2 linked regions of the Homo sapiens genome follow. The protein of the gene in region 1 purifies or fractionates together with the protein of each later gene. This does not show direct contact. Each region holds a gene or a part of one and is shown on either strand. Other genes may lie near its edges.

Region 1 (5,302 bases):
AGGATTCAAACTTAGGGGTCTGGCTCCCAGCCTGCTCTCATGACCCCTCTGCATTGAGGCTTTTTCTGACCTCCTTCCCTCTGTAGGCAGAGGCCCCCAGTATGGTTGGGCAGGTTGTGAACTGCACAACTCTAGGGAGCACCATTTCCATTGCAGTTTCTGAGACTGGACTGTTTGCGGTGTTGTCTGGCGGATGAGGGTTAGTGTCTCAAGGAAGGGACGCCTTCATACAGAAGTGCTGTATGCACCAGCCCTGACATTATAGCTGCTCTAGAGAGACACTGGACCCCTGTGTACCCTCTGCCCTACAGCTCAGCACAAATCATAGTGCTGCCCTGTCTGCAGCAGGACCCACCAGGAACCAGGCCCAACACTCAACTCCATGCAGGTGATAAGAGCTCATCATTCTTGAATAATTGCCACGTGCTAAGCAGGGCTCTAAACCGTTACTGGTTGCCTTGTACAATCCTCACAGTCCTCAGGAATAGGTCTTTTGTTCTCCCTTTGTCTGGGTAGAGAAACTGAGGCTCAGGGAGCTTGGTGACTTTCCTAGTTTGCCTGGTTGGTAAGTGGCAGAGCTTACTGCCTACAAGGGCTGCATCTTACCCACCGGGTTCCCACATCCCCCACTGTAGTCCCCAGGGCTCTCTGTTGGCTGCTGTTTGGGAGAATGTGGCATGCAGGGGTGAGGCAGGGGGTCTTCTGAGGGCTCAGTTCCCAGGGAAGTTCCTCTCAGGTGCCAGGACCCTGTGGCAGCAGGGAGGGAATTCAGGTGAGGACAGCATGTTGTCCAGCTTGGTTCTATCTCATCTGCCTGTCCTTCCCAGGGTGTCACCATGACCAGAGATCTGTGTGGCCCCACGTCACCACCTGTGGCCTTTGAGATGAGTCTTGGAAGGTGGGCAGGAATGCCAGAGTCTTCATTGGATGAATGAAGAAATTGAGGCCCAGAAAGGACCATTCAGGGCACCCAGTGGGGTGGGAACTGTCAAGGCAGGAGCCTGAGACTCTGTCCCCTGGGCTGTGTGACTTGGCCTCTTTAAACCCTTGCCATGGTCTTGCCAGTCCAATGGGGCTGGCTCATCCTGGTTCCCTGGCCAGTGAGATGCTGGGTGACCCCAGGGCTGCAGCCTGGGAGGCGTGGCACTCTGTGTCTGCAGCTTTCTGCTTACCCCTGCCCTGGGCCAGCTCCTCTGCTCAGAAGCTGTGTGCCCAGCTGCAGCTGGGGGCAGGTGTCCTGCCCAGGAGCACAGGTGTCAGCTTTGACTGCCAGGGCACATTTATCCCATTTCCTCACTGGCACAGGGCCCTGTGACACACACACCCATCCAGGCCTGTACAGGAGGCTGGGGGGCTCTGCTGACTGGGAGTCCAGGTCATCTGCCATTGCCAGGGCAGGGGGCTGTGTCAAGACCTCTGCTCCAGCCTCAGGGGCCCTGTCTTGTCAGTGACCTGGACCAGGCCCTCAGCACCCTGAGCTTCAGTTTCCTCCTCTGACAGGCAGGGCAGTTGGGCTTCACCTAGTCTGGAGATGTGCTGAAAGCACTGCCCTGTGCCTGGTGCCACCACCACTCTGTGATGTGAGTCGGAGTTCCTGTCTCCTCCTGCAGGCCCTCCTGCCACCCCCTGTGCCTTGTCCAGAGCATGTTCTGCTGGGTCCTTCTGCTCTTCCACCCACAGGGTCAGGGCGCCAGGGCATCACCAGCCCTTACCAATTGCTGGGTGGGAACTGCTGCTCTGGGCACCGCCTCTCGCTGGGTGGCCCTGGTCCACAAAGGGGTGTTGGGCCTCGTGTCCCTGTGTGTGTGTGTGTGCGTGAGTACATGGGGGCATGAATTTGTGCCTGTGTGTGTGTGTGTGTGAGTATGTGTGGGCACATATTCGTCCGTGTATGTTTGTGTGCCTGTATGTGTGGGCATGTATTTGTCCGTGTGTGTGTGCGTGCATGCTTTGGGACTGCTCCTTGACAGTGTCTGCCCCCCTAGGGCTGCTTGCTGTGCCCACTCTTGCATTGAAATCCACCTCCTCAGCACCTACCATATACCAGGCATTGGGCTGGTCATGGGAAGACCACCGGGAACCAAGACAAACATGTCCTTTGTCATGGAGCTGACAGTCTAGTGGGACAGACTGACAGTCATCAAAAAGTTGAAGATAATTTAAAATCAAAACAACAGCAAGAATGAGGAGAGAGAGGTGTGTAATGCCACAGGAGCCTAGAATTGGATGCAGTCCTGGAGGGATTTCCTAAGGAAGTGACATTCGAGCTGAGCTCTAAGGAATGGGTAGGAGAGAGCAAGGAGGGGGAGGGAAGAACATTCTAGAAAGAGGGAACAGTATGTGCAAATGGCCTGTGGCAAGAAGGACCAAGGAAAGGTCAATGCAGGTGGAGCACAGAGCGGGATAGTGTGTCGTGGGAGGGGTAGGTGGGGTGGGAGGGACCTGCTGCCAAGCCAGGGGTGGAGAGGGCCTCAAATCCCTGAGGTTGGTGGCAAGCAGTCCAGGCCCTCGATGCAGCTTGGGCTCTTGACTGTCACATGAGTGCCTGCTCCCAGGCCAGCAGGGCCAAGAAAGCGAAATGTCGGGAGCCACCTGAACTCCCAGATACACTTTGCAGGGTCAATCTTTATTTGGGCCTGCCTTAGAGGGCCCAGCTTCCAGCACAGCTGGTTTCAGGAGTGGGTGGACTCAAGTCTGAGGACCTCTCTCCCTGTGCTGCTTCCTCCTCCCAGGCCTCCGTTTCCCCTCCGGATGGGCGGTCCTGTACAGGCCTTCACAGATGCCCCTGTGGAGTTCTGGTCCAGTGGGGTAGATGAGGCCAGGGTGGTGAGAGGCAGCCAGCATCAGGGCCTGAGCGACTGAGTGCACCTGTGGCCTCAGAGACCCCTGCACACTGGGTGGGCTGTGGGAGGGAAGCCCTGGTCCCTGGTAGCATTGGGGTCCTTTCCTGTTGGGAGCTTTTACCAGCTGCTCTGGCAGTTCCCAACAGAGAATGCCCACTGTGCCAGCATGAGCCTTTACTGTAGTTCTTTCCATCTTGGAGGGGTGGCAGGGGCAGCTTGGCACAGTGGCTCACGCCTTTAATCCCAGCACTTTGGGAAGCTGAAGTAGCCTGATCGCTTGAGCCCAGGAGTTTGACACCAGCCTGGGCAACATAGGGAGGCCTGGTCTCTAAAAAAAAATACAAAAACTATCTGGGTGTGGTGGGCACACCTGTAATCCTAGCTACTCTGGAGGCTAAGGAGGATTGATTGAGCCCGGGAGGCTGCAGTGAGCTGTGATGGCGCCACTGCACTCCAGCCTGTCTCAAAAAAAGAAAAAAAAATGGTATTTTGAGAACTGGTATAGCCTTACCGACGTAGATGGGGGACCCTCCCCTAATCCTGTAGAGGCTGCAGGTCTGCGCAGCCACCCTTTGGGTGAGTGCCAGGTGCACGCCTTGCATCCCGGCAACTTCGTGGGGTCGGGGCAGGCAGGGGCAGGCAGGGCCAGGCCTCGCTGACCGCGCCATGTCCCGCAGGTTCTCGCGCTCTGACGAGCTGTCGCGGCACAGGCGCTCGCACTCAGGTGTGAAGCCGTACCAGTGTCCTGTGTGCGAGAAGAAGTTCGCGCGGAGCGACCACCTCTCCAAGCACATCAAGGTGCACCGCTTCCCGCGGAGCAGCCGCTCCGTGCGCTCCGTGAACTGAAAGCGCCCTGAACCCCAGCCTGTCCGTCACCCCGGATCCCCACCCCATCCCCATTTTTTTAAGCAATAATTTATTTGCCTCCTCCAGAGGGACATGGCAATGTTACCAGCCCACCTTCTGAAGCCTGGGAGGTGTGAACCCAGGGCCCGCCAACCGCTGCCTTTCTCGGGAGTACTTAGAGCCTCGAACCCGCGTCCCTGGGGGCTGGGCCCCAGGCGCACGGGGCTGGAGGCAGGCCTTCGTGCCTTCGTGCCTTCGTGCCTTCCCGCGGTGGCCAGGCCTCTGCTGCAGCCGCTGGTTGCAGGCAGAGTTTTGGGGACCTGGCCCTTCTCCCACTGGGCTCCCCCATCCTGGGCCAAGGCCAGAACTTTAGTGCTAGGGGAAGATGAAATGTGCAGTTTTGAAATGTTGGGTTTCCAGAGAGAGTCATGCTGGAGGAGAAGGAAGTAGGCCAGAAGTCCAGGGCTGCACTGTGGTGTGAGGGTGGCTTTGTCTAAGATGCCTGCTCAGCATGATCACCAGAGGGTGTGGGCAGGTCCCTGGAGCCGGGGGGGGGGGGGGGGGGGGGGGGGGGCAGGACCGGGCCGCTGGGCCCTCATGTGGGAGAGAGGTGAAAAGCGTCCCCCACTAGGGGGCTGGCAGTGCATGTGCTTGAGTTAAATGTGCAGGGCAGACAGAGCCAGAAGGGCCTGTACCCAGGGGCTCGTCCCCTCCTCCGGTTTCCCAGACAAATCCAGACACCAGCCTTTAGGGTGGCCTTGGGAGGAGAGGGCCAGGCTGTCCTGGGTGTGAGAGAACTAGATAGAGCCTCCCAACCCTGATTTAGAAATGCATTCCTTATTTTGTCTAGAAATTAATAAATGAACTAGCTTGTTTTGACAGGTTTATTTCACATCCTATGAATGTATGTAAATAAACTGTACATAGGTCCATCCACATAAAATATCTTTTAATAACATATCAACATTTGTGTAAATTTGAAATTTAAAAAAATCTATGAAGCTGGTGTACATATGTTACAATTACGTATATTTTCTTTGGTCCTTCATAAAAATATATTTACTTTGCCAATAAAAAGAAAAAGAACTCACAGCTTTTGGCATTCATGTGCTGTTTTCCTGCTTTGCCGGGATGTGGAGGTGACTCTGGGGCCGAGTCTATGTCTCCACCTTCGCAGAGTTCAGGGAACTCTGTTTTGTATTTGGAGGGATAGAAAGGCCCCTTGGGGTCCAGCCCCGGTCCAGCAGGGTAGGGTTCCCATACAGCTCAGCTCCAGGCCAGCTGCTGAGATTCTGCTCATCCCGGCTCCCTGACCTGGAGCTCCGTAAACCCAAATCCAGCCCACATTCCGACAGCACCTGTGGGAAGCTGCCTCAGGCCTGGCCAGTCCTGCGAGGCTCACCTACTCTGCTATCGGAGACCCTTTCTTGCACTTCCTACCCCCATCCAGTCCACCAAACCTATTACACATGCCCTATATGTTTGCTGTGCCTTGGCAGAGTATTTACCCCCTTAGGAACGTGGCTGTGCCATTTCCTACTGGCGTGGGTAATTGTGAAAGTGTTAGGAATCCTGAGCAGGCAGAGGTGAGACTCGGAGAGGCCAGTATATGC
Region 2 (7,879 bases), on another chromosome or scaffold:
TATAAGGCAGGAGCCTACTCTGCCTCCAGAGTATACCCAGATGCCTCTCTAAATGTGTTCCATGAATACTTAGTTAAGGCAGACATGTGATGACTAAAATTCATGATACTGGGAATTTGGAGAGGAGATGGAAATAACATGGAAGTATTGACAGTTTGAGGTAGAGCACTTAGAAAGTTTCATATGTTGGCTGAGTGGTTATTACACAAGCGTGTGCCTTTGTTCCATGTTTACTTGATTCGGCCAGAAAGCACATTTCCCAAAAGCAAATCCAATACAACTTTGCGCATAATTCTCACTGTCTTAAGTAGGAGCTGGGATGGATGCATTAACCCTTCAAACAATTGCTGCCTATTCCATACCTAAGTGGCTTTGGCTTGGAGATGGCAATATTTCTGCTCCTCATGTCCTGTGTCTCTCTCTGCCCCCAACTTTGTTCTCCTTGTTCTTGGCTCCACAGTTAAGAGACCACAGACCAAATTAGGCTCTGGCTTAATTTGCTGCTTGTTGAGCGCTTCTGAGTCAGGCTCTTTGTTTCCTCTAGGATGGTTTCTTTGCTGTTTAGTAGGTACTGTTTCGTGTTCTTTTATTTCTCAATAAGAGGGCTCTGGTTAGTGGCTGCTATGTGGCTTCTGGAAAATATACAACTCTTGGAGCTCTATTAAGCATCCTCCTTTTTGTCTGTTCCTTTCGTGTGTGCTTTACCTTTCATCATTTGAGGGACTGGATCAAAATATTAGTTGGGATTCTAGAGTTAGGAACTGTTGTACCCATCACCCTTTATAGGTCAGGAAACTGAGCAATCAAAAGTTAAGTTTCTTTTCTGTGTTACAAAGCCAGTAGGCAGGAGCCCCCTAATCTGAAGCCACAGTCACTTTACTACAATGGGTGCCTCTGGGTGATGCATGTCACCGAGTACGGATGTCTCCATTTATCCCTGAGTGAAATTCAGTCACCTCTGTGTTTACACTCTCAGTTTACACTAAGACTCTGTGTTTATACCTCTTGTGTTTACAACTGAGACACACGGGACAGCGCAACTTGAGAATTAACATCATAGAAGGTGTCAACTGAAGAATGAGAAAGTTCATGAATTTGGAAAGGAGAGCTTTATTTTTCATAAAGCGTGGCCACTGGCAGGGTAGCCATTGCTACAGTCTGGAAAGTGTAGCCTCCAGCCAGAAACCAGAAACACACTTCCAGGTTGGGAAAAATAAGACAGGAATTTATGCTGAGTGGAGTGGCCAAATACACAGTAAACTATAGGAGGAGTCATGAATATTTATGAAAGATGTACATGTGCAATTAAGCTTCATGACTCTTGATGGGTTACATGTACAAAAAAATGGTATTAGCATGATTCTGGGGTGGAGTTTTTGGCCCTCTTGGGTCAAAAGGTGAAGCAGAGGACACAACTCTCATGGTACATCTTCTATAGACTAGCCAGAGCCACTCCATGGTCCATTGTCTCTTAGGAAGGAATGCTGGTTGCTTGGTTTGTTGAAACCTTAAAAGGAAGGGGCAGCATCAAGTGGTTGGTTCATATCAATAGTAGAGGCCAGGTGCAGTGGCTCACACCTGCAGTCCCAGCACTGTGAGGATTCCTTGAGTTTGAGGAGTTCAAGACCAGCTTGGGCAACAGAGCAACACCTCATCTCTACCCAGAACAAAAAAACCACCAGTGCAATGGTACGTGGCTGTAATCCCAGCTACTCTGGAGGCTGAGGTAAGAGGACTGCTTGAGCCCAGGAGGTCAAGGCTGTGGTGAGCTATGATTGTGCCACTATACTTCAGCCTGGGGGATACAGTGAGACCCTCAAAGATAGCAGGGGTGGAGCAAGTCTTTCCCAAAGGGCTGGTTTCTGTTTAACCCTTAAGAAAGAAGGCTGGGTACTGTGGCTCATGCCTGTGACCCCAGCACTTTGGGAGGGTGAGATGGACAGATTGCTTGAGCCCAGGAGCTCAAGACCAGCCTGGGCAACACAAGGAAACCTCATCTCTACCAAAAAAAAAAAAAAAAAAAAAAAAAACCTGGTGTGGTGGCACGTACCTGTAGTTCTAACTACTCGGGAGGCTGAGATGGGAGGATTAATGGAGCCCAGGAGGTCGAGGCAGGTCTTGAGCCAAGGTCACACCACTGTACTCCAGGCTGGGCAACAGAGCAAGCCCCTTTCTCCAAAAAAAAAAAAAAAACTAATGGCTGATAGTGAAGGAGCAGGTATAACAAGCTGTTTCCCGTCTCCCTTCCAGTCATATATGGGAACTCCGCTTTTAAGATTTCTCTGGATAATTTAAGGTCAGGAGTTCGAGACCACCCTGGCCAACATGGTGAAACCCCATCTTTACTAAAAATACGAAAATTAGCCGGGCCTGGTGGTGGGCGCCTGTAATCCCAGTCACTTGGGAGGCTGAGGCATGAAAATCGTTTGAACCTGGGAGGCGGAGGTTGCAGTAAGCTGAGATCCAGCCACTGCACTCCAGCCTGGGCAGTAAAGCGAGACTCAGTCTCAAAAATATTTCTCTGGGGTCCCCTTGGACAAGAGGGGGTCCTTTCAGTCAGTGGAGGACATGGGGTTTTATTTCTGAGGGCATTTACTGTGTGCAAGTTACCAGGCATTGGGCTGCAAAGATGAATAAGGCAAGCTCCTGGGAAGCAAGAAGCTTACATGCCCCTTAGAATGATTGTAATTCATAATAACTTTATTTTTTAAATCCTTGTAAATCTTCACAAAGGAAGGGATGTCATGGATGACAAAAGTAGCTACCCAGCTTTCTGCATAAAAAGCCTCCACCCCTGCTGGTCACCCACTCAGCACTCAGCACTCACCAGGGCCTGCACCACCTGCCTTCCCTCCTGCCCAAGTGCACACCCCGGACAGACTGATTATACATTGATGTGAAGAAGTCTGAAGCAACAGGTATCTTCACTGTATTTATGCTTTCAGTTCTTCATAATCACAGAATGAAAATGTGAAATACCTCCCCCCCCCCCGCCCCCAATTAAAGACATGCCAAATACTTCAGGAACAACCAGGATTGAAATTTGGCTTCTCCAAGGTAAGCCTGATAAGGTCAAAGTATGCTGGTACCTGTTAAACAGCATAAGGGGTACAGGGAGAGGGTTGTCAAAGGTAGAATTTCCACTTTCTTGAGGACCTGGGGTCTGCCCTTGTTGGACATCTCTGGAGCAGCACAGGCCACTCACCCCATTTGACTATACAGCACTTAAAAATGTGGCGAGTCCAAATTGAGATGTGCTTGTGAGTATAGAATACAACAGGATTGGCCAGGCGTGGTGGCTCACGCCTATGATCCCAGCATTTTGGGAGGCTGAGGCGGGTGGATTACCTGAGGTCAGGAGTTTGAGACCAGCCTGGCCAACATGGCAAAACCCTGTCTTTACTAAAAATACAAAAATTAGCCGGGCATGGTGGTGTGCACCTGTGATCCCAGCTACTCGGGAGGCTGAGGCAGGAGAACCATTTGAACCTGGGAGGCAGAGGTTGCAGTGAGCCAAGATCATGCCATTGCACTCCAGCCTGGGCAACAGAGTGAGACTCTGTCTCAAACAAAAAAAAAAAAAAAAAAAACAAAAAAACAGGACTTTGAAGACAGCATAAAACATCTTTATTGATTACATGTTGAGATAATGTTCCGGATGTTTAGGTTAATACTGAAATCCAGCTTGCTGTTTCTTTTCACTTTTTATTAAATGTGACCACTAGAACATTTAAAATTACACACGTGGCTTGGTCAGTATTTCTCTGGGGCAATGCTGATCTAGAGGCAGAGACCATCCCTCCCCAGCAGTTAGACCTCAAGACTAACTGCTGTCCCCTGTGGGGATGATGTGGTGGTACATTATGTCTGCTGCTCTGGTGTGGCCCTGTTTTTATTTTTGGGTGCTCAGTAAATGTTACTGGGAGAAATGAATTACAGGAAAAATGAGTCCTTTCCTAGCCTCCTTCAATGAGGTTTGCAACATTAAAGTCACCACGGGCCACTTTCACTGGAAGCTGTCAGTGTCGGAGGTTTGGAAATTAACTGAGAACTACAGACAGGAAAGGTGTAAAGCAAATTATTTTCCTATCAGATTGACATTTACAAGAATAATGGGAAGGAGCATGGAAAAGAGGAAGCAGGTCAACCTTCCTTGAGGACAATTAGATAATAGGCATCAAAAGTCTTAAGTTGTATAAAACCTGTATCCTAGAAATTTACCTTTTCGTAGTTTATTCTAAGGAATTAATTGGACAAAAGCACAAAGACATCTAATTGTATTATTAAAATGGAAAGTTTAATATTCAACAATAGCAGATAGGTTAAGTACATTAGGACATTATGAAGTGGCTTAAAACGGACATTCAAAAAAAGGAAATGGAAAACCTGAGTAATGTACAGCTTGTATGGAATGAACTAAAAATATATAAATTTTTGCATAGGTAGAATGACATTGGAAGAACATACACCACAATGTTAACTGATTATCTCTGGGTGTTGGAAAATGATTGATTTATCAACTTTTTTACTGTTATTTCTTTTCTTTTTTTTTTTTTTGCAATGAACAGGCATGCTCTGGCAGTTTTTAAATGAAGTATGGAAATTATGGATTGTGCAGTCATAGTCAACGTTCATTGAGAGCTTACTTTATATAAAGCATCATGCTCAGCATTGTGCTTTGTGGCATTTGATTTTTTAAAAATCAAACGCCCTCCAATCTTAAGCAAGGATGATGGCCAAAAGGTCGGCTTATTACCCAACTGCAACAATAGGAGGGACAGGTAATTAAAAGGCAATTGCCATGACAAATAGAAAAGATGCCAAAGTCAACATTTTTTCAAGGAGCTATAAAGCCCGTGGAGGAGTCAGCTGACGGCACAGTGTTCGCGGCTGCACCGCTCGGAGGCTGGGTGACCCGCGTAGAAGTGAAGTACTTTTTTATTTGCAGACCTGGGCCGATGCCGCTTTAAAAAACGCGAGGGGCTCTATGCACCTCCCTGGCGGTAGTTCCTCCGACCTCAGCCGGGTCGGGTCGTGCCGCCCTCTCCCAGGAGAGACAAACAGGTGTCCCACGTGGCAGCCGCGCCCCGGGCGCCCCTCCTGTGATCCCGTAGCGCCCCCTGGCCCGAGCCGCGCCCGGGTCTGTGAGTAGAGCCGCCCGGGCACCGAGCGCTGGTCGCCGCTCTCCTTCCGGTGAGTCCCAGCCCCGAGTTGGCTCTGGCGCCCGGGTACCCGCCAGTGCCGGCTGCCGATGACCGATTCACGCTCCCGGTACTGGGGCCCCCTCTGCCCAGCCACCCCTACCCAGAGCACCCGGGCTGCGCGGCCCCGCCGAGGGTGCGGGCTTTGTTCGCATTGTCTGCGCGCACCTGAGCGCGGCCTTCCTGGCACGGCGGCGTCGGGGGAAGAGCGCACCTGGCGCGCGCCTCCCTCGTGGCCACTCGCGGTCCGTCCCGGGCGAGCTGGCGGGGTTTTGGGAGGGGTGCGGTCAGCAGGTAAGTGGGTAGGGGCTCCGGGTACAGGGGTGGAGGAGGGCATGTATTAAACCCAAGCTGCCCTCCTGGCACAGTAGCGGGGCCCCCTTCCCTGGCGGCCGCGGAAAGGGACTCGCCCTTTGAATAAAGGCTTTGGTGACATGCTCGCTTCCACCCCACACCCCACTACAGGACATACACAGGTGTTAAGGGGACTTGGGGCAGTTTTCCCAGGCAGAACGAGTGCCCCCAGCGAAGTGTCTGCAAGCAGAACCTGAGAGGGGCCGGCTGCCCCGAGAGTCCTCGCGCTTGGGCAGTGGGAAGTCCAGGGGTTTGTCGTTCTGGTGACTTCCCCCACCTGGCTCAGCCCTGCTTCCTGCATGTCTCCTTCCCTTCCAATAAGGCTAACAAAACTTTCCCTAGCTAAGCCGACCTTTCCCTCCCGCCTTGGGCCCTTGGCCACCTGCTGGGACGGTGAATGGGAGAGTCTCAGAATTGAACCTTGAAAACTTGCTGGGGGCACCAGACAGAAGAGAAGGGAGGAGGGCACCTTGCTGCTTGTGATTGTGGAATCAAGGGCTCCAGCTGAAGCTGAAAGGGGACTTAGCAATGGGGACCTCATGCCATGTGTTTGATGTCTTGGAGATTGGAATAATTAGAACGTGTACATTTTTCAAATTACAAGCTGCTTTAAGTAAAACCCCAGAACCTCTAAGTGTTTTATAAATTCAGTCCCAAAAATTCAAGGTCTCTTTTGCTGTTAAGGTGACACTATATTAAGAAATGTCGATTTATTGAAGAGTCAGAGAAGTGAAGAGGTCAGAAAGGTACCACTAGAGTTGGCAAAAGCCACAGGCATGAATTTGTAAATGCTGCTGGCTTTCAGCAGGCTGAAGCCATCCTCTCTTGTGACTGATGGGGGTTCAGAGCTCCTCAGGCCTTACTCTTCTTTTGTAAAATCCAGCCCAGAGCCATCTCCTAGTAGTGTAAGAATTTCTCAGACTAGGTCCCCAGGCAAATCCCAGGTTGGAGAAGAGGATTGCTTTCCTCATCATCTCTGGCTGAAAACCATCAGTGTATTTTCATTAAATCTGGTTTTTGGTCTACCGTACAGAGATTACAGCCAGTATTTCCCCTCTCTTCAATAGGCACAAGCCCCTGGGATATCCGAATCATAGTCAGAAGCCCATGTTTTTACAGATGAGGAAACTGAGACCCAGTTTTAGAGTGTTAGGTTCAAAGCAAAATTGAGCAGAAGGTACAGGTTTCCCATATACCTCCTGTCCCCGCCTATGCACAGACTCCCCCATTGTCAGCATCCCCCACTGCAGTGGTACATTTGTTCCAACTGATGAACCGACACTGGCACATCATTATGACCCAAAGTTCACAGTTTGCCCTGGGGTTTGCTCCTGTTGTACATTCTATGGCTTTGGACAAATGTAAAATGACATAAATCTGCCATTATAGTATCAAACAGCATAGTTTCACTACCGTAAAAATCTTCTGTGCATCCCACCCTCCCTACAACACATGGTAATCACTGATCTTTCTACTGTCTCAATAGTTTTACCTTTTCCAGAATGTCTTATGATTGGAATCATGTAGTACGTAGCTTTCTCAGATTGGTGTCTTTCGCTCGGTAATATACACTGACATTTCCCCTCCTGGCTTTTTAATGAGCATCATAAAAACAGAATAGTTATTTGGCAGTGACGGCATCATAAGCTTGTGGTGAAAATGCCTTTTTTGTTAATAACTCCCCTGATGTGTGTGCATCTTACAAAGCATTGTCCTCACATCCTCAGTACCTGGAAGGGTACCGGGCACAGGGCAGATGCTTAATAATTTTTACTGGGTAAATGAAATTTCATGTAATTATAGCAATGAGAGGGTCAGCAACACTACGAGGTTGTTTTAGAACAGTGGTCCTCAAACTTTTGCAGTGCATATATCAGTAAATGAAAACCTAGTTTAATTGGGAGGCCTGCAATAGAATTGCTCATTTTTAATTTTATCCAATAAGGCTATTTTAAAACAAATCCCACCCCCCTCCCTATCATCAAGGAGGCTATTGGAAGTCTGTTGGTGATTGTGTGTGTGCATTCCCTGCAAAATGTTTCTGTATAACCCCAAGGCAGCACAGTGGGACAGCTGAATGTATTTGAAGTCCCTTCCTTTGTGTGACCTTTCGTCTTCTAAACAGCTCTGGACTGCTTAATTTTCCTCTTCCACCTACCACATTAGCTGCTGACTTTCCTTGAATGTGATTACTACCCTCGGTCCTCCCCTTCCTTTTCCTGATCATGAGTCTCTTCTCTTGAACTAGATTTCCCTGGTCTCAAATTAGGAAACTTTGCCCTTGCCCCGGGAGCCTTTGCATCGTGGTTTCATGGGGTCCTGGC

Evidence for each region. The genes of interacting proteins can lie anywhere in the genome.
Region 2: the proteins of KLF15 (region 1) and VWA2 purify together in Homo sapiens (affinity purification with mass spectrometry; 2 studies listed by BioGRID and IntAct, with this or other methods). This does not show direct contact.

Annotation. Positions count from the first base shown.
Region 1 is NC_000003.12:126,342,114-126,347,415, reverse strand, and holds the end of KLF15 (Krueppel-like factor 15), read left to right. Parts: intron 1-3,520; coding exon 3,521-3,689; 3' UTR 3,690-4,781; downstream 4,782-5,302. UniProt on the Homo sapiens protein: Transcriptional regulator that binds to the GA element of the CLCNKA promoter. Binds to the KCNIP2 promoter and regulates KCNIP2 circadian expression in the heart. Is a repressor of CCN2 expression, involved in the control of cardiac fibrosis.
Region 2 is NC_000010.11:114,234,377-114,242,255, forward strand, and holds the start of VWA2 (von Willebrand factor A domain-containing protein 2 precursor), read left to right. Parts: upstream 1-4,877; 5' UTR 4,878-5,193; intron 5,194-5,237; exon of another isoform or gene 5,238-5,495; intron 5,496-7,399; exon of another isoform or gene 7,400-7,879.